5 separate regions of the Homo sapiens genome follow, and all the other regions are linked to region 1. Evidence: fine-mapped expression QTL. A gene starts in region 1. Each other region holds a variant in brackets. All regions are shown on one strand. Distances are between the middles of the regions.

Region 1 (5,105 bases):
TCAGCCTCTTCAACTGCTCTGAATTCCAGGGAAATGTGTAAAGTGTAGACTCCTAAGCCCAATACTGAATGTAAGGGACTACCTCTACCAGGAACAGCAGCAGGAGGAATTCATGGTATATTTTTGTGCTCAGAAAAGGTTTGCAGAATAATCCTTAAGAGGCAAACAGATAATTCAGTAAAGGTGGACAGTATGTAAAAAGTACTCCTGGCTTCACTTTTATAAAAACAAGCTCCCATTCCCCTTTCATGGATCCTTGATGAAATGAATATCTCACTCCTAGTTTCCTTTTCCAGAACCCAGACAACCAACACCTAAGCTCAAACTCCCACCACCTTTTCTCCTGTTTATGTTCCTTGGACAATTCCCTGACAGAGGAGTCCTGCCCAGGATCTCTGTGTGGTAAAGCCATGGCTCTTCCTAATAATGAATGAAAAGCGAGTGTGAAAAATAGTAGCATTAGCTGATATCTGTTAAACACTTACTATATTCAGGTACCATGGCAAGTGTTGTACATGCATTATCATCATTTTGATTCTCAAAACAATTCTACTGTATTAATACCTCCCCATTTTGAAGCTGAAACAAGAGTCAGAGGAGGAATGTAACTTCGTCTAGGTCACAAAACTTGTAAACAATTCACTACTAGCTGATTTGACAACTTTATTTCAGTTTCAGTAGATGAAAGAAGTGTATCCTAGAGCTACCTTTTATCTTAGCAGGTATTAACCTTTTGAAGAGCATCAAAAATTTGAAAGCAATGAGTGAAGAGGTCAGGTGGAGCAGAAAGAAGAACCAATGGGATTGGGATTAACCTTGGAATTAGAAAAACCAATGTCTATTTCCAGCTCTACCAATTTAGGTAGTGAAATTTCAGGTGAATTTTTAAACCCCTAAATCTTAATTTATTATTTTTCTTGCATAATGGGATTAATAACGTCTATCTTGCTCATCTCAATGGTTTTCATATGGATGACATAAGAATGTAGGCATAAACATTGTAGAATGTTTTGCAAATTAAGTGGTATCAAATGCTACCTTGTCTGGTCTCTCTCTGGAAGATTAGGGACATCCCTAGTACCATTCCTCATCTACTTGCATTTTCTGTCTGCCATTCTAGAGCGACCAGCAGAGGCTCCAAAAATTTGGTCTGACTAGTGGTTACAATCTCCATGAAGTTCAAATTAAAGGAGCCATAGCTTGAAATGGCCAAAGAAACCAGAGAGATCACAGTGCATTGATTCTACCTTTACAGAAAATCCAAACGTACTAGGTTCCCAGGGTTCTAACTCATGCCAGAATTCTGCTAGTGCATTTTCAGAACTGGCAAGAGATACTAGAAGTAGATCTAGAAGTTCCAAACATAGTAAATTTCTGTTAGAGCAATTGTTTGTATTTAAGGAGATAACATGTACAATGACACAGCACTCCCAGATCTATGTTAATGTTACAATTTTCTTTGTACAAATAACAATCAATATTCATGTCGTTCTTTTAGTTTACTGTTATGCCATAAGTAAGAAAAATAGGGTTTTTAATTCAAGTTCTCCAACTCTTTTTTGAGACTATTTGTAAAAAATGGGATAGTAATCTCTTCCTCATTTATTTTAGAGTTTGTTGAGGATAAAAGCAGAGTAATAGCTCTGTGTTTTGAAAATAAAGGGAGTTTATAGAGATGAGGCTCAACAATGATAACGATGAGTCATCCATCACTCTAACCTGATAGAACAATCAACTATAATTAGGAAAGACATTTTTCTCTCTCAAACGCCATCACAATTGAATGCCAAGAAGAAATTGCTTGTAAGTCATTCAAGCTTTTAGAAGATCTTTCTTTTGCCAGGCTTTTTGGGTGGGTTTACCAAGTGCTGATTCCTCTGAGAAGGATTTGCCTCAGACCTTTGGAAACTGAGATCTCCAGATCTCAGAAATATAACTCAGTAATATAAACTTTAAAGCTGAACCTAAACACTTAGGTTTGAATTTTAAGTCTCTCCCCAGCCAGTTGGATCCTGTTGAGTACAGTAGATACTGAGACCCAGGGTGTTCTGCTAAACACAGATCAAAAAGACAGTTCAATGTCTTCCTTAAGGGCAATTTTTAAAACTTTATGGAAAACTAGGAGGCGATCAGCAAGGGTCAGAACTCACAGGTTTGCAGGCAAAGGAGCAAGATCCATAGGTGGTGCTGAGCCATCTCTTTCAGGGTCTAACCTTCTGTGGAAAAGCACGGCACTGTTCTAGCAGAGTCAGTTTCACTTGAGTTTTCTTCCTCCTTTTTATAACGACATTTAAGAAAGGAAGTGCATGTTAACTGATTTAGTTAACATTGGTCTTTGTATTACTGTGCTAGTTTTTTCCAATTTAAAGTGCCTAGCATTAATTATTTATTCAACACATATTTATTGTGTGCCTACTATGTGCCAGGCCCTCTTCTGGGTGCTGGCAATATACAGAGCAACAAAACAATTGATCACCCTCCTTTCATGGCATTTATACTCTTTTTTGGAGTAATCAACAACTCTATAAGCAGTTCCAATTTAATGTAGTAAGCATTGCAATAGGAAAAATACAGGGAACTATGAGAGGAATAGGGGCATCTAACTCAGGCTAAGAAAAGTTGGAGTAGGCTTCCTAAAGAAACTGACAACCAACCTGAGACAGGCTCAAAGAATGAATTACCATTATTAGGCGAATGGCGGTGGGGGATATGAAAGAGGAAAAATGTTTTGACATATGGTAGGAGCTTAAAAAAACATAGCAATTAAAATTACATAATTATAGTTATATAAAATGATCACAAGTACATGATTATGTATTATAATGTATAATCAACATGTGATATTATTTAACATAATCAATATTAAGTATTATATTAATAATATATAATTATATTTATATATGATACAATAATATATAATTATATAATATATTAATATATAATATAGTATAACTACATACATATAATTATGTATAATTCCATGATATCATCATGAAACATTATGATTATGATCACACCTTATTAGGGACACAAAAAGTGTTTGATAAAAATGAAGTCAAAAGGGATTTTTAGACTATTGAATCTATTTTGCAGATGGAGAAACTGGCTCAGAAGGAGAGGAAGTGACTTTTCCCTATATCACACAGTGAATTAGGGAACTGAGTTAAAAGCCAGCAGTGTCACTTGGCAAAGACTGTGACTCCTGGGCATGAGAGACAGCAGGTGCAGAGGCAGGCTTAGGTGGAGTTGAGCTAGATGTAACAGGACTATTTCTTGTAGAGGGTCTTCATCTTGGTTAACAAGAATAAGAGTGATTGTGTAATGTGTGTATGGGAGATGTTGTCTGGGAATGGGGATAGAAATGAATATTTAAGTTTGACTCAGCTGTTTTGGGGAGTAATGAGAAGGCTGGGGACACTACCCCTGAGACCTGGAGGAGCTTTTTTTTAACTGAGACGAGTCCTCATGCTAGCTAGCTCATTCCTAGGTAACCTGGCCTCTAGAGTCACACATTAAATAATCCTGCTGATCATTTCCCATATATACTTACATAATACTGAATATAGTTGACCCTTGAACAATGCAGGGGTTTGGAGTGCTGTCCCCTCAACCAGTCGAAAATCCATGCATAACTTTTGACACCCCTAAACTCAACTACTAATAGCCTACTGTTGACAGGAAGCCTTACCAACAACACAGTTGATTAACACATATTCTATGTGTCATATACATTGTTTACCATATTCTTGCAGGAAAGTAAGCTAGAGAAAATAAAATGGTATTAAGAAAATCATGATGAAGACAAAATATATTTACTGTTCATTAAGTGGAATTAGATCATCATAAAGGTCTTTATCCTCATCATCTTCATGTTAAGTAGGCTAAGGAGGAGGAGGATAAGGAGGAGTTGGTCTTGCTGTCTCAGGGGTCCCTGGGGAAGAAGAGATAGAGGAGGTTGAAGGGAAGGTGGAAGAGACAGGCACAGTCGGTGTAACTTTTCAGAAGTATATTTAATTTTTGTCTGACTTTTTTGCTTGTTCATTTCTCTAAAAATATTTCTATATGGTACCCCTTCTTACTTCTACCATTTGTTTTAGTTTTAGTGCCTGTATCATACCATAGATGGGCCCATATCATAAAAGAAGTCAAAAGCGGTCCCGAATAGTCAGAAGCCTTCTGTCAGACTGTCTAATGTCAGCTTGTTTTCTGGCACTGCTGCTTCTATGTTTTCTTCCGCATTGTTTGATCCTGGCTTAGATGCATTCTTCTCCATCAAGTCATCTTCCATTAATTCCTCTGGTGTGGTGTCTATTAGCTCTTGAATTTTGCCAAGATTTATTTCTTGAAACCTTTTACCCCAACTTTTTTTTTTGCCATATCCACAATATCTTTCATAATTTCCTTGATTAGCTCTGTCATAAATCCTGTGAAGTCACGCACAACATTTGGACACAGTTTCCTCAAGCAGAGTTTATTGTCTCAGGCTTAATGGCTTTCACCACTTTTTCTGCAACAATGATAGCATCTTTAATGGTGTAATCTTTCTAGACTTTCATGATGGCCCTCTCCTGGGGTTGTCTTCCTAGGCATTGACAATTCTTTCCATAGAGTACGTATATAATGAGCCTTAAAGGTCCTTATGACCCCCTGTTCTAGAGGCTGAATTAGAAACATGTCTGGGGAGAAGTATACCATTTCAGTGCCTTTGCTGTTGAACTCCTGGGGCTCTGGGTGGCCAGGGGCACTGTCCAATATCAAAATAACTTTAAAACGCAGTCCCTTACTGGCAAGGTATTTCCTGACTTCAATGACAGGGTATTGATGAAACCAATGCAGGAAAAATGTTCTTGTTGTTCAGGCCTTCTTGTGGTACAATTAAAACACTGGCTGCTGGTGTTTATCTTTTCCCTTCAAGGCTCAAGGGTTAGCAGACTTATAGATAAGGGCAGTTGTGATCATAAACTCAACTGCATTTGCACAAAACAGTAGAGTTATTGATTTCTCTCAGTTCCTGTATATTTTTGTTTATGGTGATATGTAATTTACTGGAGAGATGAATTTCTTATGTGGAAATGGTATTACAAGATTTTTTTTAATACTGTGTA
Region 2 (5,105 bases), 78 kb before region 1:
CTGTGCAGAAGCTCTATAGTTTACTTAGGTTCCACTTGTCAATTTTCGTTTTTGTTGCAATTGCTTTTGGGGACCTAGCCAAAAATTCTTTGCCAAGGCCAGTGTCAAGAAGGGTATTTCCTATTTTTTTCTAGGATTTTTATAGCTTGAGGTTTTACATTTAAATATTTGATCCATCTTGAGTTAATTTTCGTATATGGTTAAAGGTAAGGGTCCAGTTTCAATCTTCTGCATATGGCTAGCCAGTTATCCAGCACCATTTATTGAACAGGGAGTCCTTTCCCCATTGCTCGCTTTTGTTGGCCTTGTCAAAAATCAGATGGTTGTAAGGGTGTGGCTTTATTTCTGAGTTTTTTGTTCTCTTCCAGTTGTCTATGTGTCTGTTTGTGTAACGGTACCATGCTGTTTTGGTTACTATAGTCTTATGGTATGGTTCAAAGTCAGATAGTGTGATGTCTCTGGATTTTTTGTTTTTGCTTAGAATTGCTTTGACTATTTGGGCTCTTTTTTTGGTTCCATATGAATTTTAGAATGGTTTTTCTAATTCTGTGAAGAATGACATTGGTAGTTTGATAGGAATAGCACTGAATCTAGAAATTGCTTTGTGTGGTATGGCCATTTTAACGATGTTGATTCTTCCAATCCATGAGCATGGAAAGTTGTCATTTCTGAGGGTTTCTTATTTCTTATAGGAGGAGCTGAATAGGGAAGGAAATGTCTCTTGGAGTCCTAGTGCTCAGCTCCTGGGTGAGCTTGCACTTCCTCTCTCTTTCATGAATTGTCATATGGGTTCCAGGCACATGAACATTGCTGTCATCAACATCTTTCCCATCAGCATTTTAACACACTGTTATTTGTCATCTTTATTCCTCTTTCCTCTGAATCACATGGGTGAATACCACAAGCAACATTTTGAGCAGAATGTCCAGATACCAGAGAATACAAATATATGATTCTATTTATTTAAAGTTGATAAACAGACAAATCTATGCTGTCAGAAGTCAAGAGAGTGGTTACCTTTGAGGAGGGAGAGGTGGTGAATAGGAGGGAGTATAAAGGAAGGATCCTGGAATACTGATAATGTCCTATCTCTAGATCTGTATTTGGCTACACAGATTTGTTCATTTTATGATAATTCATTGAGCTGACATTTAAGATTCGTATAGTTTTTCTCTTTGTATTTCAGTTTAAAAAGTTAAAACAGTAACAAAAGCAGAGCAAAACAAAATCATGTCTATGGTCTATAAGGACCAAAATGATCTGGCCATTTCTCTTTCTTTGACCTAATTCCTATATTCTCCCCCTTGTTCACTTTGCTCCAGCCCCCTTGGCTATTCCTTGAGCAGGCCAGGGCTTTTGCATTTGCAATCCTTTCTGTCTGGAATGTACTTTCTCCAAGTATCCATGCAGCTCACTCTTTTGCCTCCATAAAGTCATTAATGCAAACATTCCTGCTCAGAGAATTTAAAGAAGTGTGACCACTCTTTTTGCACCATCAGCCCCCATCCACCCTTGCACATCCAGCTGCCTTTGGATTTACCATCTAGTACTTACCATCTAGTATACTTTATAATTTAAATATTTGTTTTTGTTTATTTTCTCACCTCTCCACTAGAATGTAATCTCCATGGAGACAAAGATTTTTGTCTGTTTTGTCTACTATTGTGAACATTCTTGAACAGCACCTGGCACATAGTAAGCATCCCATGAATATTTACTGAGTGAATGGACATATCTCCATCCCTTCTCTTGGAGGTTTTCTGTCTAGAATGTTAAAGCTCAGTTCCTTTTGGTAGGGAGTCTGGGCTTACTCAGTGGCCTAAGGACTCACCAGGAGCTGTTCTTCCCTTGCCTGGAACGCTTGTTTAAGTTCCATTGATTTTATAGATTGAAATAATTAGTTTATGTAACAAGATTTTATCTATGGCTATTTATGCTGCTTACAAGAAGAAAGTCAAGGCTAAGGCAGAGTGGTAGCCTGTCTAGGCATTAAAGGAGTGCCCCAAAACAGAGCCAATCTGCAAAGACAAGCACAGAAATTTATTTATTTGTTTGTTTGTTTATTCATTCTGGTGTTCAAATATTCTAATATTTGCTAACTTCCATGCTAATTCAATTAGTAAAACCTTAGGAACCATGGCATATTTATTAGGTCTGTTTTATGTACCAGTTTCTAGACTGGAAACTGGGAATATAAGATACTGTCAGTCCTCTGGGTCCATCATCTGATAGAGGAGCCTGACAGGTAAATGAGTAGTTAGTTCTGATGTGGTGGGTTGGGCATTGAGCTAGTGTAAGGCTTGCCTCTGCATTGCCCTCGTATCACTATTGCAGTTATACATGCAATTGCAAGCAGTTCTTTCTCTTTGTTATAATTACAAGATTATTTTCTTTTCTTTTCCATAATCTTGAGGTCAGGGATTCTGATTATTATTTCTATATTCCTAGAACTTAGCACACAATTTCTAGCTCAATAAATGTTGAATTGTTAGAGATATGTGCTCCATGGGAGCAAAAATTTAGAGAATCATGAACTGGGAAGAGTTGGGAGTTGTCAGGGAACAGTTCACAGGAGATGACACTGTAGCAAAGTCTTGAATAAAAGCTATGAGTTCTCCATTACTTAATTATTTGTAATTCTTCCAATAATGCCTTGCTTTTTTTTTTTTTTTGCACTGCTTTTCCCTCTGCTTAAAATGCCTTTCTTCATCTTTCCTACATGGTAAGCTCCTATTTATCCTTCAAGGATGAGCTAAAATATCTGTTTGCCTCTTATATTTATGGGGGTTTTGCATTGGTACATGGGGAAGGGGAGAAAGGAGTTTGTGGTGAAGCAAAGGGAGAAGGAGCACAGGATGGATGAGATGGTAGGAATAGTTCCCCACAGACCCAAAACCAAACCAAAGCAAAACTAGATTTGAGACAATATGCTTAGGGACAGTGAAGGTCAGATGCTACTGAAAATGTTTAAAAGACCCTGC[A/G]TGAGACTTTGGACAGGAGCAGAGCTGCTTCAGGGCCAAGGTGTTGTGGTGTGGCCCAGAGGGCACATGGAGGTCCTTTTCTCTGCTCTGCCAGGAATCAACACTGATGCTTTGGGAGCATCCGGGACCAGCACCCTTGGCATGGACATTGATGTTCTTGGAATAAGCAGGGCATCTAAATGGCTCTGCTGGCATCCTGTGTGGGGGACTAGAACCAGAAAAGGAGATTAAGAATGGGAAAGATGCCTCATGTTGGCTACAACTCGTAGGCTGCTTTGGGGACTCATGGGAAGCTTTCCTTTGAGACTCTCATAAGTCACTGGGGAACTCCTTGCAACATGAAGGTGATGCTGAGGTCTTGCCCATCCACTGGTGAGGATGTCAAGACAGCAGACATTTGGGGTACATTTGTTTACAAGTTTCATCTACTGTATGATGTGTTTTGGGGAACTCAAATAATATCTTAGTCAGCATTGTATTTCCCCATAACCTGGTCCAGGGAACTCAGTGAATGTTAAGTAGATTGGAATTAGAATAGAGAAGTTTTTAAGGGTTACCTGATTAGTGGAGGGTTAGTTTGGAAGGTATTAAAAAACATGAAGTATTTTTGAAAATTGGCAAAGTATAAAGAGAGCAGTGTCTTAGGAAAGAGAGGAGAGAGGTAGAACTAAGCAGATTCTGAAAAAGAGAGAAAAGTCAAGGAACTTTGGGTTTCTAACCTGAGGGACTAGCTTAGGCCCATCTATAGCTAACAGGAATATAGCAAGCTGTGTTAGCTCCACAGGAGGCAAATGCAGTATGAAAGAGAGTAGGGGCTGATTTCTCAAGAGAATTTAAAGAGAAGGGAGGAGAAACATAGTCAGGATATTGAGAAGGTAGGACAAATGGAAGTTACTCTTTAGGTAACAGAGTCCTGAGCAAATTTGGAGCAAAGGGAAGCAGCTGGGAGAAAAAGAAAAAACTTAAGATATGGTGAAAGGGAGTATTCAAAACGGTGTCATTTCTGAGGAGGAAGCCAGGGTGGGCTTAGGAGCATAAGTGAAGAGGTTAGTCTTGGGTAGACGTGGTTCTCCTTTTCTTTTGAGACTGAAAAGAATAAGGTTAAAGATCTCAAAAGATTTAGAGGGTAAAGGGGAAGAAGTTGGAATATTTCGCTTATGTTTTTCTCAAAGTTGTTCTAAGAGAAGTAGATCTCATAGAATCTAGAGGAAGACGGATGAGACATGTAAAAGCTGCTATGAGGAATTTGTTAGGAAACTGACAAGTCATCAATAAATGAGTGTGGAAGCAGTGAGGAGGAATTGGCCAAGCTTGGTTGACACGCACCATTCATGGAGTCCATCCAGTTTTGCATTGGCTGGTGCGAAAGTGATTGCGGATTTTGCCATTACCTTCAATGGGAAAATCCGCAATCACTTTTGCACCACACTAATAACTTTCTCCAATGATTATAGCACTTGTAGCCCAGGAACAGGGAAAGAAGGTGCTGGGGATCACCTAATATTAGCAATAGGCATAGTATAGGTAGGTGTGGCATCAAAGGGGAGAGGGATTTCAGGGGAATGGTGACTACTTTGTTGAAATTGCTGGCCTAAAGTCTGAGGGTCAGTGACATTAGTCAAAATGGCACAATAAATAACTGCAAGGGTCCATCCCTCCACAAAAAACATGCACACTCATGCGAACACACACAGAGTGAGCAAACATTGTCAGAATCAACTTTGTCAGAACTGTAGAAACTAGTCAAAGGTTTATAGCAACCAAACAAATGATGGGTCAAAAAAAGAGGCAACTTAAAAATGCTAGGAGTTCTAGTCTGGCCAACATGGTGAAACCCTGTCTCTACTGAAAATACAAAAATATCAGCCAGGCAGAGTGGAACATGCCTGTAGTCCCAGCTGGGGAGGATTGTTTAAACCTGGGAGGCAGAGGTTGCAGTGAGCTGAGATCATGCCATTGCACTCCAGCCTGGGTGACAGAGTGAGACTCTATCTCAAAAAAAAAAAAAAAAAGCAAAAGAAAAAAAGGAGTTAAAAAAAGCCAAATACATAGAAACAAAGTATAAAGCAGTGGTTATCAGAGGTGGAGAGAGGGAACAGAGAGGAAATGGGGAGATGTAGGTCA
Region 3 (5,105 bases), 28 kb before region 1:
AAGTTACTCTTGTTCCTCCAACTCTCCTTGAGATCCTGGCACAAATATGCTGGGCACCCTGACCCTCACTTCTTGCCTGTCCTCCTTTTCTTCTCCTCTTCTTTCCTCATTCCTCCCCTTCTTTTTCTTTCCCTCCTTCCCTCTCCTGATCACTAAGAAAGTAAATGTCCCTCTATCTGGTTGTCCAGTCCATTTGGCTTATCTTTTCAAGCAAACTGCCCTGTGCTTCAAGTCCTCCTTAAAAGGAAGTAGCACTGCCCTGCTTGTCGAGCTCATAGATGTCCTCCCTATTGCCTTATAGGATCACTCTCAATTCGTACTCAGTTTAGCTTCCTGCTTGGTAACTCAGCTATTAAACAGGAATACTTAGAAAACATGATTCTTTAAGCAACCCTAAAGCTGTCCTGATTGTAGCAGCAGTGAGGACCTTCAGATAGTGACAATCCCTCCTTAGATCCCCAAAATTTAAAGTCCTGTCAGAGGGCTTTGCATATGACAGAGAAGGACATAAGGCACAGGCATAAGGCACAAGGCACTTGGCACTACAAATGGTTGTGCAGGCTGCGTGTGGTAAAAGAGCAGCTGAGGGAGCAAATGAACTGAAATTCAGCTTCTGCTCCATTGCACCCATCTGGGCATCTGGCATGGGCCTGTGTTTGCTCAGAGGGAAGCACCTGTTTTCTCATTTTCACACTGTGAGCTAGCAGTGACCCCAGGTATTATACGGGATGGAGTTCCCATACCGTAGTTCAGAGGCATAGGGACTTCTGCATTTGAAGGGTGGGATCAGCATCCCAAGTAAGATAACTCGTGGATGGCCATTGACCTAGGGAGTGGGGCTTTGTGCATGGGTGGAAGTACATATAGACCAAAAACCTAGGCAGTGGGTCCTGAGAACTACAAGGAGTCCCAGGGGAACCAGCTAGCCCCTGGTTGGATGGACCGGGTGCACCAGAATGGCTGGAAGAGTTAGGAAAGCAAGGATAAAAAGCCAGAAAGGGGTTACCTTATCAGCAAACTGCACTTCGGAATAAACTGTGTTCACTGGCTCTTCCTTGGAGGGAAGCACCTGTAAAACACACATCTTCCCCTCAGTGAGGGAGCCCAGGCCCATCTACAAGTCCCCTTTCCTAATTCTGCCTCTACCCACCATCCTTCCCTGGTCCCACATTTACTGGGTGGCCTCCCCTTTGGCCTCAGTTCTGCCTCCATCCAACTCTGGAGAGGCTTAGGATCAGGAAGGGATAAGGTGGGGGTGAATGGGTAGCAGTTGGGCAGGGTCTCGGGGGTGAAAAACCTCAGGGGCCAAGAGGAGGGATCCCATGGTTCAGGATGAGTCCTGCTCAGTCAGGATTTTAGCTTTCCATGGGCTCTATGGATCCAGCTGCCCTATCAGTCCAAGCACAGCGCTAGACTGACCAGGCAGACCTCAGTCTCCCCCTTGATTCCTTGCAGACTTTAAGGAGGCAGGCTGGTGGGGACACAGGAGAGGGCGATCCAGGGTGGAGGGGAGGGAGGGGCAGGCAGGTAAAGGGCGGATGGGAGGAGGGGTGTGGAACAGTGACTCTGAGTCTGAGGAAAGCAAGCCGCTGCTGCTAGACCAGGAGGGGCATTCAAGGGAACTTGTCTGTCAGTTCTGTTGCCTCGTAGCCCCCTTAGCAACCTGTTCACCACGTTGGTAGTCACATAGCAGCCCTCACCTCACTCCAGTAGCTCCTCTGTTGTGTGGCCCCTCTAGGGGGCGCCTTGCTCCTAGTCATGGCTCATCTAACCTGGAGCCGGGCCCACTGTGGGACACTCAGTGCCTCAGCCCATGGAGGCTGCCATGGGGTGACAATGGGTCACGTTCCTGTCCTCATAGAAAGATCCGTGGCATCACTTCCCTGACATGGTATTTCCTGGTTGGAACCTCTGGACTCTTGGCCGTGGCTGCTTTCTAGACAACAACAAGCAGAGGCAATGGCTGCCCATGACTCCCTGTCATGGAGATGGTGGCACAGGGGTGTCCATGAATTGCATCAGCTCACCTTGGACTGCAGGATTTCATCATAGATTCTGGACTCTGCTGGCTGGGTGTTCCTTGAAGCCATGATATATGTGTATATGGTTTTCTTTGAGGCAGCATCTGTCTCACAAATAAATATAGAC[C/T]CACAGTCTGTGAAAGGTGGTTTTTTTAGCAATGATCTATTCCAATGTTCTCTTTTTAAGATGAAGAAAGGAAGCCCCCAGGGATTAAATGGCTGCCATCCTTTGAAATGGATGCTTGGATCCTCAGAATGTCTCAGGAGTCACTTGGCTGAGGCCTCACCCACAGGTCAATGGGAATTCTCTTCTACTCTAGAGTCCAGATTAGGCCAAAGACAATTTCCCCAACCCCTCCCTGTGTGGCCAGTCAAATGTAGCTCTTCTACCCAGGATCTCCCTTCATGTTTCTGACACTTACCACTGACTGTCTTGCATGGCTAGTTGACTTTCCATGTCACGGTCTTAGTTTTTTAACTTGATTGATTCTTTCTAGTTATATACTATTTTACATTCTTTTGGTGCAGACCTTGCTGTAACCATCTCAATGTTAAGCCCATAGTAGATGTTTCATGAACATTTATTGCTTGTTTGATTGATTCACAGTCTGTTTTTGTTTGTTTTTGAGACAAGTTCTCACTCTGTCACCCACGTTGGAGTGCAGTGGTGCACCAACTCATGGCTCACTGCAACCTCTATCTTCTGGACTCAAGTGATCCTCCCACCTCAGCCTTCTGAGTAGCTGGGACCACAGGTATGTGCCACCACACCCAGCAAATTTTTTGTATTTTTGGTAGAGACAGGGTTTCACCATGTTGCCCAGGTTGGTCTTGAACTCCTGAGCTCAGCTGATCCACATGCCTTGATCTCCCAAAGCGCTGGGATTACAGGCATGAGCCACAGCACCCTGCCAGTTCACACAGTTAATAAACATTTATTAAGCACCTTCTATGTGCCAGGCTCTGTGTGAGGCCCCAGAGAAGAAAAGACAGTAGACAAGTCTTTCCTTTTAAGAATGTATAGGCTAGAAGAGACATTCACGTCAGTGTACTCCTTTGCTTTGGTACTAACACAGAACATTTTAGGGTCAAGGTGAAAAAAGAAGGCCAGAATTTTGGGCCTTCATAATCCAGGGCACCAACATACCTACAAATAACAGGTCTGAGCTGAGCAGTATTACAGGGCTCCAACATTCAGAGTTTAGTCCTATCACTTATTTGGTGAGTATGAGACAAACTGAGTGCTCTCTCTTGTCTCATTTATAGATGCAAAGAATAGCCCTTTCTCTTCCCAAGAGTCAGCGAGGGATTGAAGACAATATCTCTTTGAGGGACCTTGCAGATCACCTGTGGTTCAAGCAGGCTATGCCTTCTCCCCATTGTGAGGCCATTTGAGTATGGCACACGTCACAAATCCCCTCCCCCCTAGAATGCCTCCTCCGTACCATGCCCCAGGCCAATCAGTTATCAGTATACTAGCTAACATTTATCAAGTACTTACTATGTACTGGGAATTGGGCCAAGTATTTTGTATTTCTAATTCCATTTAATCTACTTAATAAGTATATACAGCACACCTTATTACTGTGAATATTTTACAACTGAGAAAATGGAAGCTTACAATGATAAAAAAACTGGTAGCTGATAAATGGTCAAGCTGGGACTTTCACGCCTAGACTGACTGCAAATCACGTGCTTAGTCTTAACCACTCTGTTGGGAACTCCCCATCCCTCCCAATTGTTATTCAAGGAACTTTGTGGCTGAGAACTTACAAGGGTTCTTAGTGAAGGTGTTCAAGCAGGAACCTGAGGAATCAGACCCAAAGGAGAGTCAGGAACATGGAAGCAGAAGTTCCATGTTTTTTATTGTGATTGGTGGGAAAAGGAAGTTCTTGGGTGGACATGGGATGTGGGTGAATCGGAGGGTATAATGATTCCTTGAGGGTCTAAGATCAGGTTTTCTGAATGGAGAATGGCACAACTACAGAATGATCCAGAGGGATTCAGAGGGACATAGTGACAACCATGGAGTACAGGATTAGTATATGTTTCTCAATGACTCTCCAATAGTCATAATCAAAATACAATGAAATTGGAAGTGACCCTGGAGATCCTCTAGTCCAAACATTTCACATGTGAGGGCCCTGAGCTGGAAAGGTGAACACACTCGTACAGTGAAGCACAGCTTGTTCATGTATGTACTAAGCTCGAACCCATGTTCTGGGCCCACCAGCTACTGGTGATCTCAGGAATGGATTCTGAAGACCATTCAGGGTAATGTCATACCATCCTCAGAGCCATCATTCTGGGAGGTGGTGGGGTGGAGATCGGAAAAAGGCAGATTCCCTGGAACAATGGGCCTTTCAGCTAAACCTTGGATAAATGGCTTCAGTCCCAGGAGGAGAGAAGGTGAGTTTCCACATTTTACCTTCTGGGAAAATCCTACCTTGTCTTCTCTTGAACAAACGGAACAAAAACACTGAAGACAGAATGAGAACAAGCAGAAAGAACATAGCCAGCACGCTCAGCAACCCGGTGTGGTGAGTACGGAAGCCCATTGCGATGTCTGGAAATAGAAGATGCAGTGAGTCTTGATTCTCAGGAAATAGGCCCAAGAGGCTGGGCAGGTTTGCCCACAGTCAGGGGCATTATGAAAATTGGGTGCCCTCCGAAGGAGTGCCAAAGCTCCTAGGGAAACTAAACTTTCTGCTATTAAAAGCCAGGATGAGAAATTGAATCAGAGAGTTGATCAGGGGCTGCCACAGAACACCCAGAAATGTCTAGCATCTCTCAGAAGGCTTTGGCCTCTTTCCCAGTAGGCTTCTTGGGAGGTGATGCCCTCAGTGACCAGGCCAAAGATAAAGGAAGCACATCTCCCTAGAGAATGTGGCCCACGTTCAGACCTTGCAGCTCCTCAGAGTGATCTCTGAGACTCACCAGGAGAGATGGGCAGAGCTGGTTACCTGCACAGAGCTGCCGGGCAGAGATGGAGTCAGAATTGTTGCTGACAGGGTTCTGGGCTGTACACGTGTAAGTCAGCTCTTGGTCCTCAGGAGTCTGGAAGATTTGAAGGACATTACCCTC
Region 4 (5,105 bases), 54 kb before region 1:
CTGCCAGCGTCCCCTTTCCCGCCCCAATCCCTTGGCAGAGAGCCAGACAACTGTATACAGACGATTTAGGTTGAGCAAGCTGCACAAAACCAGGGAGTCACTCAGTGACTACACCGATCTGGATTGACATTTACCTGGGCCAAAGCAGAAGACAAACAGGAGCGATTGGAACAGCCACAACATGCTTTCCGCGGTGAAGACTGGTGCTTGAGACCTTGAGGCAGTCAATGTTTTTGCCCTTCTGTCATAAACTGAAAATACTTCTGAGACTTCCCCTTCCTCTTAGAGGCGTGGTGACAACTTCTTCCCCTGCACTAAAAATCCTAATTTGTAACTGTGTTAATTTTTTGTTTACTTTTTTCTGAGCTAAGTGCACAAATTTTTTTTTTTTTTGGAAAAGAAGATAAAGTCCTTTATTGCATCTTTCATAAACTTATATGTAAAAGTCTGTAAGGAATTTCCTAAAATCTACTAGAACAAATAAATGAGTTCAGCAAGGTGAAAAGATACAAAATCAAAATATAAAATTCAATTGCAATTGTATATACTAGCTATGAGTAATCCAAAAATAAAATTCAAAAAACAATTCCACTCTAATTACATTAGAAAAAAATATTTAAGTATAAAGCTAAGAAAAAGCCAAAAGAAAACTGATTTTTTAAAATTATACTTTAAGTTCTAGGGTACATGTGCACAATGTGCAGGTTTGTTACATATGTATACATATGCCATGTTGGTGTGCTGCACCTATTAACTTGTCATCTACATTAGATATTTCTCCTAATGCTATCCCTCCCCTTGCCCCCCACCCCGTGACATACCCCAGTGTATGATGTTCCCCTACCTGTGTCCATGTGTTCTCATTGTTCAGTTCCCACCTATGAGTGAGAACATGCGTTGTTTGGCTTTCTGTTCTTGTGTTAGTTTGCTGAGAATGATGGTTTCCAGCTTCATCCATGTCCCTGCAAAGGACATGAACTCATCCTTTTTTATGGCTGCATGGTATTCCATGGTATATATATGCCACATTTTCTTTATCCAGTGTATCATTGATGGGCATTTGGGTTGGTTCCAAGTCTTTGCTATTGTGAACAGTGCTGCAATAAACATAAGTGTGCATGTGTCTTTATAGCAGCATGATTTATAATCCTTTGGGTATATAACCAGTAATGGGATTGCTGGGTCAAATGGTATTTCTAGTTCTAGATCCTTGAGGAATCGCCACACTGTATTCCACAATGGTTGAACTAGTTTACACTCCCACCAACAGTGTGAAAACATTCCCATTTCTCTACATCCTCTCCAGCATCTGTTGTTTCCTGATTTTTTAATGATTGCCATTCTAACTGGCATGAGATGGTATCTCATTGTAGTTTTGATTTGCATTTCTCTAATGACCAGTGATGATGAGCTTTTTTCATATGTTTCTTGGCCGCATAAATGTCTTCTTTTGAGAAGTGTCTTCATATCCTTTGCCCACTTTTTGTTGGGGTTTTTTTTTTTTTCTTGTAAATTTGTTTGAGTTCTTTGTAGATTCTGGATATTAGCCTTTTGTCAAATGGATAGACTGCAAAAATTTTCTCCCATTCTGTAGGTTCCCTGTTCACTCTGATGATAGTTTCTTTTGCTGTGCAGAAGCTCTTTAGTTTAATTAGGTCCCATTTGTCAATTTTGGCTTTTGTTGCCATTGATTTTGATGTTTTAGTATTGAAGTCTTTGCCCATGCCTTTGTCCTGAATGGTATTGCCTAGGTTTTCTTCTGGGGTTTTTGTGGTTTTAGGTCTAACATTTAAGTCTTTAATCCATCTTGAGTTAATTTTTGTGTAAGGTATAAGGAAGGGAACCAGTTTCAGTTTTCTGCATAATTGCTAGCCAGTTTTCCCAACACCATTTATTAAATAGGGAATCCTTTCCCCATTGCTTGTTTTTGTTAGGTTTGTCAAAGATCAGATGGTTGTAGATGTGTGATGTTATTTCTGAGGCCTCTGTTCTGCTCCATTGGTCTATATATCTGTTTTGGTACCAGTACCATGCTGTTTTGGTTACTGCAGCCTTGTAGTATAGTTTGAAGTCAGTTAGCGTGCTGCCTCCAGCTTTGTTCTTTTGGCTTACAATTGTCTTGGCTATATGGGCTCGTTTTTGGTTCTGTATGAAATTTAAAGTAGTTTTTTCTAATTCTGTGAAGAAAGTCAATAGTAGTTTGATGGAAATAGCATTGAACCTATAAATTACTTTGGGCAATATGGCCATTTTCATGATATTGATTCTTCCTATCTATGAGCATGGAATGGTTTTCCATTTGTTTGTGTACTTTCTTATTTCCTTGAGCAGTGGTTTGTAGTTCTCCTTGAAGAGGTCCTTCACATCCCTTGTAAGTTGTATTCCTAGGTATTATATTCTCTTTGTAGCAATTGTGAATGGCAGTTCACTCACGACTTGGCTCTCTGTTTGTCTATTTTTGGTGTATAGGAATGCTTGTGATTTTTGCACATTGATTTTGTATCCTGAGACTGCTGAAGCTGCTTATCAGCTTAAGGAGATTTTGGGCTAAGACAATGGAGTTTTCTAAATATACAATCATGTCATCTGCAAACAGAGACTATTTGATTTCCTCTCTTCTTATCTGAATACCCTTTACTTCTTTCTCTTGCCTGATTGCCCTGGTCAGAACTTTCAATATTATGTTGAATAGGAGTGGTGAGAGAGGGCATCCTTGTGCTAGTTTTCAAAGGGAATGCTTCCAGATTTTGCCCATTCAGTATGATAATGGCTGTGGGTTTGTCATAAATAGCTCTCATTATTTTGAGATA[C/T]GTTCCATCAGTACCTAGTTTATTAAGAGTTTTTAACATGAAGGGATGTTGAATTTTATCAAAGGCCTTTTCTACATCTATTGAGATAATCATGTGGTTTTTGTCATTGGTTCTGTTTATGTGATGAATTACATTTATTGATTTGCATATGTTGAACCAACCTTGCATACCAGGGATGAAGCCAACTTGATTGTGGTGGATAAGCTTTTTTTTTTTTTTTTTTTGAGGTGGAGTCTTGCTCTGTCGCCCAGGCCAGAGTGCAGTGGAACAATCTTGGCTCACTGCAAGTTCCGCCTCCTGGGTTCATGCCATTCTCCTGCCTCAGCCTCCTGAGTAGCTGGGACTGCAGGTGCCCACTACCACGCCCAGCTAATTTTTCTGTATTTTTAGTACAGACAGAGTTTCACTGTGTTAGCCAGGATGGTCTCGATCTCCTGACCTCATGATCCACCCACCTCAGCCTCCCAAAGTGCTGGGATTACAGGCACGAGCCACCATGCCCGGCTGGTGGATAAGCTTTTTGATATGCTGCTGGATTCAGTTTGCCTGTATTTTATTGAGGATTTTTACATCAATGTTCATCAGGGATATTGGCCTAAAATTTTCTTTTTTTGTTGTGTCTCTGCCAGGTTTTGGTATCAGGATGATGCTGGCCTCATAAAATGAGTTAGGGAGGAGTCCCTCTTTTTTTATTGTTTGGAATAGTTTCAGAAGGAATGGCACCAGCTCCTCTTTGTATCTCTGGTAGAATTCGGCTGTGAATCCATCTAGTCCTGGGCTTTTTTTGGTTGGTAGGTTATTAATTACTGCCTCAAATTCAGAACTTTTTATTGGTCTATTTAGGGATTTGATTTCCTTCTGGTTTAATCTTGGGAGGGTGTATGTGTCCAGGAATTTATCCATTTCTTCTAGATTTTCTAGTATTTGTGTAGAGGTGTTTGTAGTATTCTCTGACGGTAGATTGTATTTCTGTGGGATCAGTGGCAATGTCCCCTTTATCATTTTTTATTGTGTCTATTTGATTCTTCTCTTTTCTTCATTAGTCTGACTAGCTATCTATTTTGTTGATCTTTGCAAAAAACAGCTCTTGGATTCATTGATTTTTGAAGGGTATTTAGTGTCTCTATCTCCTTCAGTTCTGCTCTGATTTTAATTATTTCTTGTCTTCTGTTAGCTTTTGAATTTGTTTGCTCTTGCTTCTCTAGTTCTTTTAAGTGTGATGTCAGATGTGAATTTTAGATTTCTCTTGCTTTCCCTTGTGAGCATTTAGTGCTATGTTTCCCACTACATACTGCTTTGGCTGTGTCCCAGAGATTCTGGTACATTGTGTCTTTGTTCTCATTGGCCTTAAAGAACTTATTTATATCTGCCTTAATTTTTTTATTTACCCAGTAGTCATTCAGGGCAGATTGTTCAGTTTCCATGTAGTTTTGTGGTTTTGAGTGAGTTTCTTAATCCTGAGTTCTAATTTGATTGTACTGCGGTCTGAGAGACAGTTTGTTATGATTTCCATTCTTTTGCATTTGCTGAGGAGTGTTTTACTTCTAATTATGTGGTCAGTTTTAGAATAAATGTGATGTGGTGCTGAGAAGAATGTGTCTTCTGTCAATTTGGGGTGGAGAGTTCTGTAGATGTCTATTAGGTCCTCTTGTTCCAGAGCTGAGTTCAAGTCCTGGATATCCTTGTTAATTTTCTGTCTCATTGATCTGTCTAATATTGACAGTGGGGTGTTAAAGTCTCCCATTATTATTGTGTGGGAGTCTAAGTCTCTTTGTAGGTCTCTAAGAACTTGCTTTATAAATCTGGGTCCTTTGTATTGGGCACATATCTATTTAGGATAGTTAGCTCTTTTTGTTGCATTGATCCCTTTACCATTATGTGATGCTTTTCTTTGTCCTTTTTTATCTTTGTTGTTTTAAAGTCTGTTTTATCAGAGACTAGGATTGCAATCCCTGCTTTTTTTTTCTTTTCATTTGCTTGGTAAATATTGCTCCAGCCCTTTATTCTGAGCCTATGTGTGTCTTTGCCCATGAGATGGGTCTCCTGGATACAGCACACTGATGGGTCTTGACTCTTTATCCAATTTGCTAGCCTGTGTCTTCTGATTGGGGCATTTAGCTCATTTACATTTAAGGTTAATATTGTTATGTGTGAATTTGATCCTGTCATTATGATGCTAGCTGGTTATTTTGCCCGTTAGTTGATGCAGTTTCTTCATAGTGTCGATGGTCTTTACAATTTGGTATGTTTTTGCAGTGGGTGGTACCGGTTGTTCTTTTCCATGTTTAGTGGTTC
Region 5 (5,105 bases), 40 kb before region 1:
GTTTGCTACATATGCTGTATCAAGTTGTAAAAGTTTAACCCGAGCCAGTCATTTGCTTATTTGCTCTCAGCTCTATTCCCACCCTTCTGTGTTCCTTGTTTTTCAGAAGGTTAGAAGTCTGCAAACTACATTTATCATTTCCATTGTCAGATGGCTTCTGATTAGATTTTGTCACTGGGTGGTATTGGTTAAAGTTGGATGGAAGGAATAAATTATATATTTTTCCATAATCTTGGTTTCTGGTAATGTTTTCAGTAGTGGCAGTGATAGCAGAAGATGAGTACCGCTTCAGGGTTCCTGGTGTAGCAGTGCAGTTCCAGCAAGCATGTCAGAAGTCTTGCTAGTGTGGTACTGGTGGGATCAGGCTTTGATGGTGGCATCTGCAGTGGTGAGTTATTTTTGTCTCCCAGAGTCTCACAGTTTTGATGAGACTGTGAACTCTTAGAATCTTGAAAGCTGGCAGCACTGATTCCCAAGACAAATTTCCATAGGGACAAAGTTCCATAGCAACTTCCTGGAATTATTAATTGCTTGGTAACCTCAGCTTCCCTGTTTTACTCCTCCATCACTTTTGGAATCAATTCCCTATATTCAGCTTGTTGAGTTTTCAGTATTTAACATGGTCTCAGTTTTTTAAAATTGGATATTGACTAAAACACATTCTATTTTTAGCTTTCTTGAAAACTTTTTAAATCAGTCATGGGTATTCAGTTTTATCAAATATATATTGTAGACTATGTCAGGATGATTATTTTTTTCATCTCCTTTAATCTGTTTGAACAGCAAATTACAATAGATGGTTTCTTAAAGATAAATCATCCTGGCACTCTAAGGATAAAATCCTACTTGGTCGCATTTTTTTTTCTTTTAATGCATTGCTTTAAAATTGACTGAAGTTTAAGATTTTTAACATTTATATTTATAAGTGAGATTGGACTATATCAGGATGTGGCAGACTTTTTCTGTAAAGGTCCCAGTAGTGAATATTGGACTTTGTGGACCATACAATCTCCTTTGCAACTACTCAACTCTGCTGGTGTAGTATGGAAGCAGCCATAATAAACACATAAAAGAATGCGTGTTGGCTGTGTTTCAATAAAACTTTATTTATGGATGCTGAAATTTGAATTTCACATAATTTTAACATGTCCCAAAATATTATTATTCTTTGAATTCTTTTCAACCATTTTAAAAATGTAAACTATTCTTAGTTCGTGGGTCAAATAAAAACAGATGGCAGACTGGATGTGGCCACACGCCATAGTTTGCTAACTCCTGGCCTATGTATCTCTTTGTGGGGGATCATCCTTATCTGGCTTTGGAATCAGTGTTATATTATAGTATTTAATGAATTTGGAAGCTTCCCACTGTTTTCTATGCCTTGGGACAGTTAAGATGACTGGGAATTATCCTTTCATTGTAGGTGATAGGACTAGCCCTTAAGACCATCTAGGCTGGTACACTTTTGGCAATTAGACCACTGAATATCTTTCCATTTTTTTTCAGGTTAAAGAATTTCTTCTAATTATAAACTAACTTTCTCTCTCTCTTTCTTTCTTTCCTTTCCTTTTCTTTTTTTTTTCTTTCTTTTCTTTCTTTTGAGAAAGAGTCTTGCTCTGTTGCCCAGGCTGGAGTGCAGTGGCACCATCTCAGCTCACTGCAACCTCTGCCTCCCGGGTTCAAGCAATTCTCGTGCCTCAGCCTTCCAAGTAGCTGGGACTACAGGTGTGTGCCACCACACCCGGCTTTTTTTTTTTTTTGTTTTTGTACTTTTAGTAGAGACGGGGTTTCACCATGTTGACCAGGCTGGTCTTGAACTCCTGGCCTCAAGTAATCCACCCACCTCAGCCTCCCAATACAGGCGTGAGCCACTGTGCCAGGGCTTAATTATAAATTTTCAACTTATAAGTTATTACATATACAAAGCCTTATACCACAGCAATCCATTGGTCCTTTCTGCCACCAGATGACATTAGCATGGCCAATATAACCATTATTTGTGTTTTGGAAAGATCACTCTGGTTGTGGTGTAGAGAATGGATTGGACTGGGAGCAGGCACGACTGCAAGAGGTCAAGTGCTATTGTCTGGGTAAGAGATGATGGCAACCTGGACTACTGTAGTTAGTGGTGAAAGAGAGGTAGATAGATTGTAGTGACATTCAGGAGTTGTGTTGGGGTTTTCAAGACCACCCCCAGATTCAGTCATTCAGTAGGAGGACTCACAAGACTCAGCATATAGCCATAGTCATGGCCGATTTATTACAGTGAATAAACACAAAGAAAATCAGCAAAGGCAAAAGGGCAAAGTCCAGAGGAAACCAGGTGCAAGCTTCTAGAGTCCTCTCATAGTGGAGTCAAACAGGATGTATGTAATTCCTTCAACAACATGTTGTGTCATGTTTGAAATGTAATCTACCAAAGAAGCTCGATGGAGCCTAGGCATTTAGGGTTTTTCTCTGCAGGCAGTAACGTAGGCACCCTCTACCTAGCATGCACCAAAATTCCAGAATCCAAGAAAGAAAGCAGATATTCAGCAAAAAACAAATTGTTGTGCCAACAATTTAGGTACAGTGTAAGTACCTTATCAGGGAATTCTTATCAGGGAATGGTAGGAACCGTCCCAAAGTCCAAGTTCTCAGACACCAGCCAAGGGCCAACCTTATAAGCATGCCCTTCAAAGGACAGCAGTTTTAGCCCTGCTGTGTTAACTCTTCTGTGTCTCCTGCATAGCAGGTAAAATCAATATTTTCTAG[T/C]GCATTTCCAACCAAGGGTTTTATAGAATCTATGAAGGTAATATACTTCAGAAATAAACAGTATACCTGGCTTTGTCGTTGATACATATGCCAAAGGATTGTAACATGCCAGCTAACACAGTTAAAGGCTGATAAGCTATTGCGTCTTCAATAATTAAAGTATTACAAATTGAGGACTACTTGCACTGGGTCAGGCACTGTGGATACAAATGGTGACAAAACCACGCATGATCTGTGTCCTGATGGAACTCACAGTCCAGTGACGGAAGAGAGGAATTAATAAAATAATCACAGGGAGAAATATTTAAAGACAAAATTGAAAACTGCTGTAAAGGCAAGAGGTGTTGTACTATGAGCGCAAAACACGGGCATCAGATATGGCCTGGAGGAACAGGGAAAACTTCCCCCCAGGAAGGGACGCTTGAGCTTATCCCAGAAGAATGAATGGGCATTGTGTGAATGAGTGAAGCTGTGTATTGGAGGTAGTGAGGGTAAGGAGGTGGAGGTAATTTCAAGCTGAAAGTCCTATGGCTAATGTGTAGATGAAATGAAATGAAATGTGCCAAACCTCAGAAAGCACTGGAGAAACACTAGCGAAATTTATCTTCTCAAACGGTTGCTGTATCTGCCTACAGAGTTTCTACACAGGGACTCCGAAATTCTACATGGGTAGCAGTCAATTTCAACCCCACAAGAAGATGTAGGTGGGGAGCTGGAAGACCAGGCTTATCTGCAAACGCTGGCTCAGAACAGAGCAGCTGTGGCCTCTGATAAGCAGGGAATAGAGGAAGTGGTTTTGTCTCAGGCCTAAAAACCATTTGCTATCTCACAGCGCCTGTTAGTAAGTCACCTCCCCTTCAGTGTTTACCAAACATTCAGAGGCCCTGCACCTACAGTTCTGTGGAAACCACAACCTCATTCTCCTCAGTTAAAAGCCCAGTCTTTTTATCCCTTTCCTCCAAGTGGCACTATGGGTGACACAGAGAATTTCTACTCTCCAATTTGGGACTCGGACTCTGAATGTGGTTTCCAGGACTCTCTTTCCTCTTCTGATATGTGGGTGCCAATCCAAATTCAGTTCAACAAATACTTACTAAGCTCTGCTAGGCATTGGCTCCTGTGATAGGGCACTGTGAGTGAAAAATGAATAAGACAAAGCTTCTTCCCTGGAGGGAGATGACCCCCAAAACGTGATTTAAGTCCTCAATTTCCTCTCTCTAGGTTGACCAAGGCAGAACTCTCTTCTCCACCTTAACCAAGCACCTCTGCTGCCCTCCGGGTTTTTTCTGTTTCTGGCATTTGTCCTTCCTGTCTCTAGCTTCTCAGTCTCCTCTCAAGGTCCCAATCATCTCTCTACATCAGCTTTTCTTTTTTTCTTTGTCTGTCTTATACCCTCAATCCCTTGGTCTCTTGTGTCCACTCAGGGCCTGGGTTTTCAGACAGCACAGGGCTTTTATCATGTGGACTGTCTCCTTTGCTGTTTCATCTGTTTACTTCATTTTTGTTGCTCTCAAAAACCAAAACAAAGTAAAACACAAAATAGATGCATTATAAAATAATATTTATTGTGTCCTGCTGAAATGGAGCTTGTAGTCTCATTTCTTAGGCACTTACAAGGTAAAATTTATGAACCATACTTTATTAATGGGCATTTACAAATGCCTGAAATAAAAGGTGACTTGTAGAAGGGATAATATATCTTATTGCAAACATGACACCTAGCTTCTGGAATACGGTTAGTGGCATTTGCCACTAGTGAGCATAATTTCCATGTTCAAATGAATAATGAACTAATCAAAAAACCTTTTTTTGAGGAACTGAGGCACTCAGACACAAAACACAAAATTAGGCACTCAGACAAAAAGCAACTTATTAGCCAGTTGGAGAGAGAGCTAAGAAATACCATATCTATATAATTATCAGAGAATGTGATAAAAAGCTACTACTCTGTACTTGTGTGCCAAATGCTGTAAAAGTATAAATAGAGGGCAATATATTTCGCTTTGGACGGGAGGTTTTAGAAGGCCGCACAAGAGGGATATTCAGTCTGATGCTTGATGTAGACAGAAGGGAGAGAAGGGCATCCCAGACAACATGGGCAAAGGCATGGGAGGATTTGGTGGGTGTGTGGGCCCATGATAATTCTGTGTGGCTGGAGCCTTAGGGAGCAGGCAGGAGACAGCCTGGAAGGTCTGATGGGTCAGATTGCTAAGGAGTGTGGTTCCCCAGGAAAAACATTTTAGTGTGGAAGTGAAGTGATAAGATCCTCATTTTAGAAAGATTGCTCTTTATGTAATAGCAACCCAGGTAACACGTGATAAAGCAATGATCTGAGGGAGTGAGCATGTAGA

What was found. PIP is the estimated chance that this variant, and not a neighbour inherited with it, causes the effect.
Region 2: its variant is fine-mapped to the expression of CD84 in whole blood (TOPMed, PIP 0.96).
Region 3: its variant is fine-mapped to the expression of CD84 in whole blood (TOPMed, PIP above 0.99). The same link has a PIP of 0.9 or more in esophagus muscle.
Region 4: its variant is fine-mapped to the expression of CD84 in T cells (TOPMed, PIP above 0.99).
Region 5: its variant is fine-mapped to the expression of CD84 in whole blood (TOPMed, PIP 0.96).

Annotation. Positions count from the first base shown.
Region 1 is chr1:160,577,242-160,582,346 of GRCh38, forward strand. CD84 (CD84 molecule) reads right to left here and starts at 2,255. Exons shown (of 7, transcript NM_003874.4): 1 at 2,151-2,255. The coding sequence starts at 2,196.
Region 2 is chr1:160,499,042-160,504,146 of GRCh38, forward strand. The region is part of intron 1 of SLAMF6 (SLAM family member 6); the gene reads right to left. Among named protein-coding and RNA genes, the nearest start is that of SLAMF6, 22 kb to the right of the region's middle. The variant A/G (reference allele first, on the strand shown) is at 2,982.
Region 3 is chr1:160,548,911-160,554,015 of GRCh38, forward strand. It overlaps CD84 (CD84 molecule), which reads right to left. Exons shown (of 7, transcript NM_003874.4): 3 at 4,985-5,105; 4 at 4,468-4,587; 5 at 2,028-2,125; 6 at 1,007-1,069. All of the region lies in intron 1 of CD84-AS1 (CD84 antisense RNA 1), which reads left to right. Among named protein-coding and RNA genes, the nearest start is that of CD84-AS1, 14 kb to the left of the region's middle. RefSeq lists a silencer at 528-577 and enhancers at 728-967, 1,798-2,027. The variant C/T (reference allele first, on the strand shown) is at 2,149.
Region 4 is chr1:160,523,010-160,528,114 of GRCh38, forward strand. It overlaps SLAMF6 (SLAM family member 6), which reads right to left and starts at 246. Exons shown (of 8, transcript NM_001184714.2): 1 at 135-246. The coding sequence starts at 183. RefSeq lists an enhancer at 31-80. The variant C/T (reference allele first, on the strand shown) is at 2,811.
Region 5 is chr1:160,536,800-160,541,904 of GRCh38, forward strand. CD84 (CD84 molecule) reads right to left here. Exons shown (of 7, transcript NM_003874.4): 7 at 4,299-5,105. It overlaps CD84-AS1 (CD84 antisense RNA 1), which reads left to right and starts at 297. Exons shown (of 2, transcript NR_188634.1): 1 at 297-388. RefSeq lists enhancers at 3,295-3,384, 3,400-3,694. The variant T/C (reference allele first, on the strand shown) is at 2,755.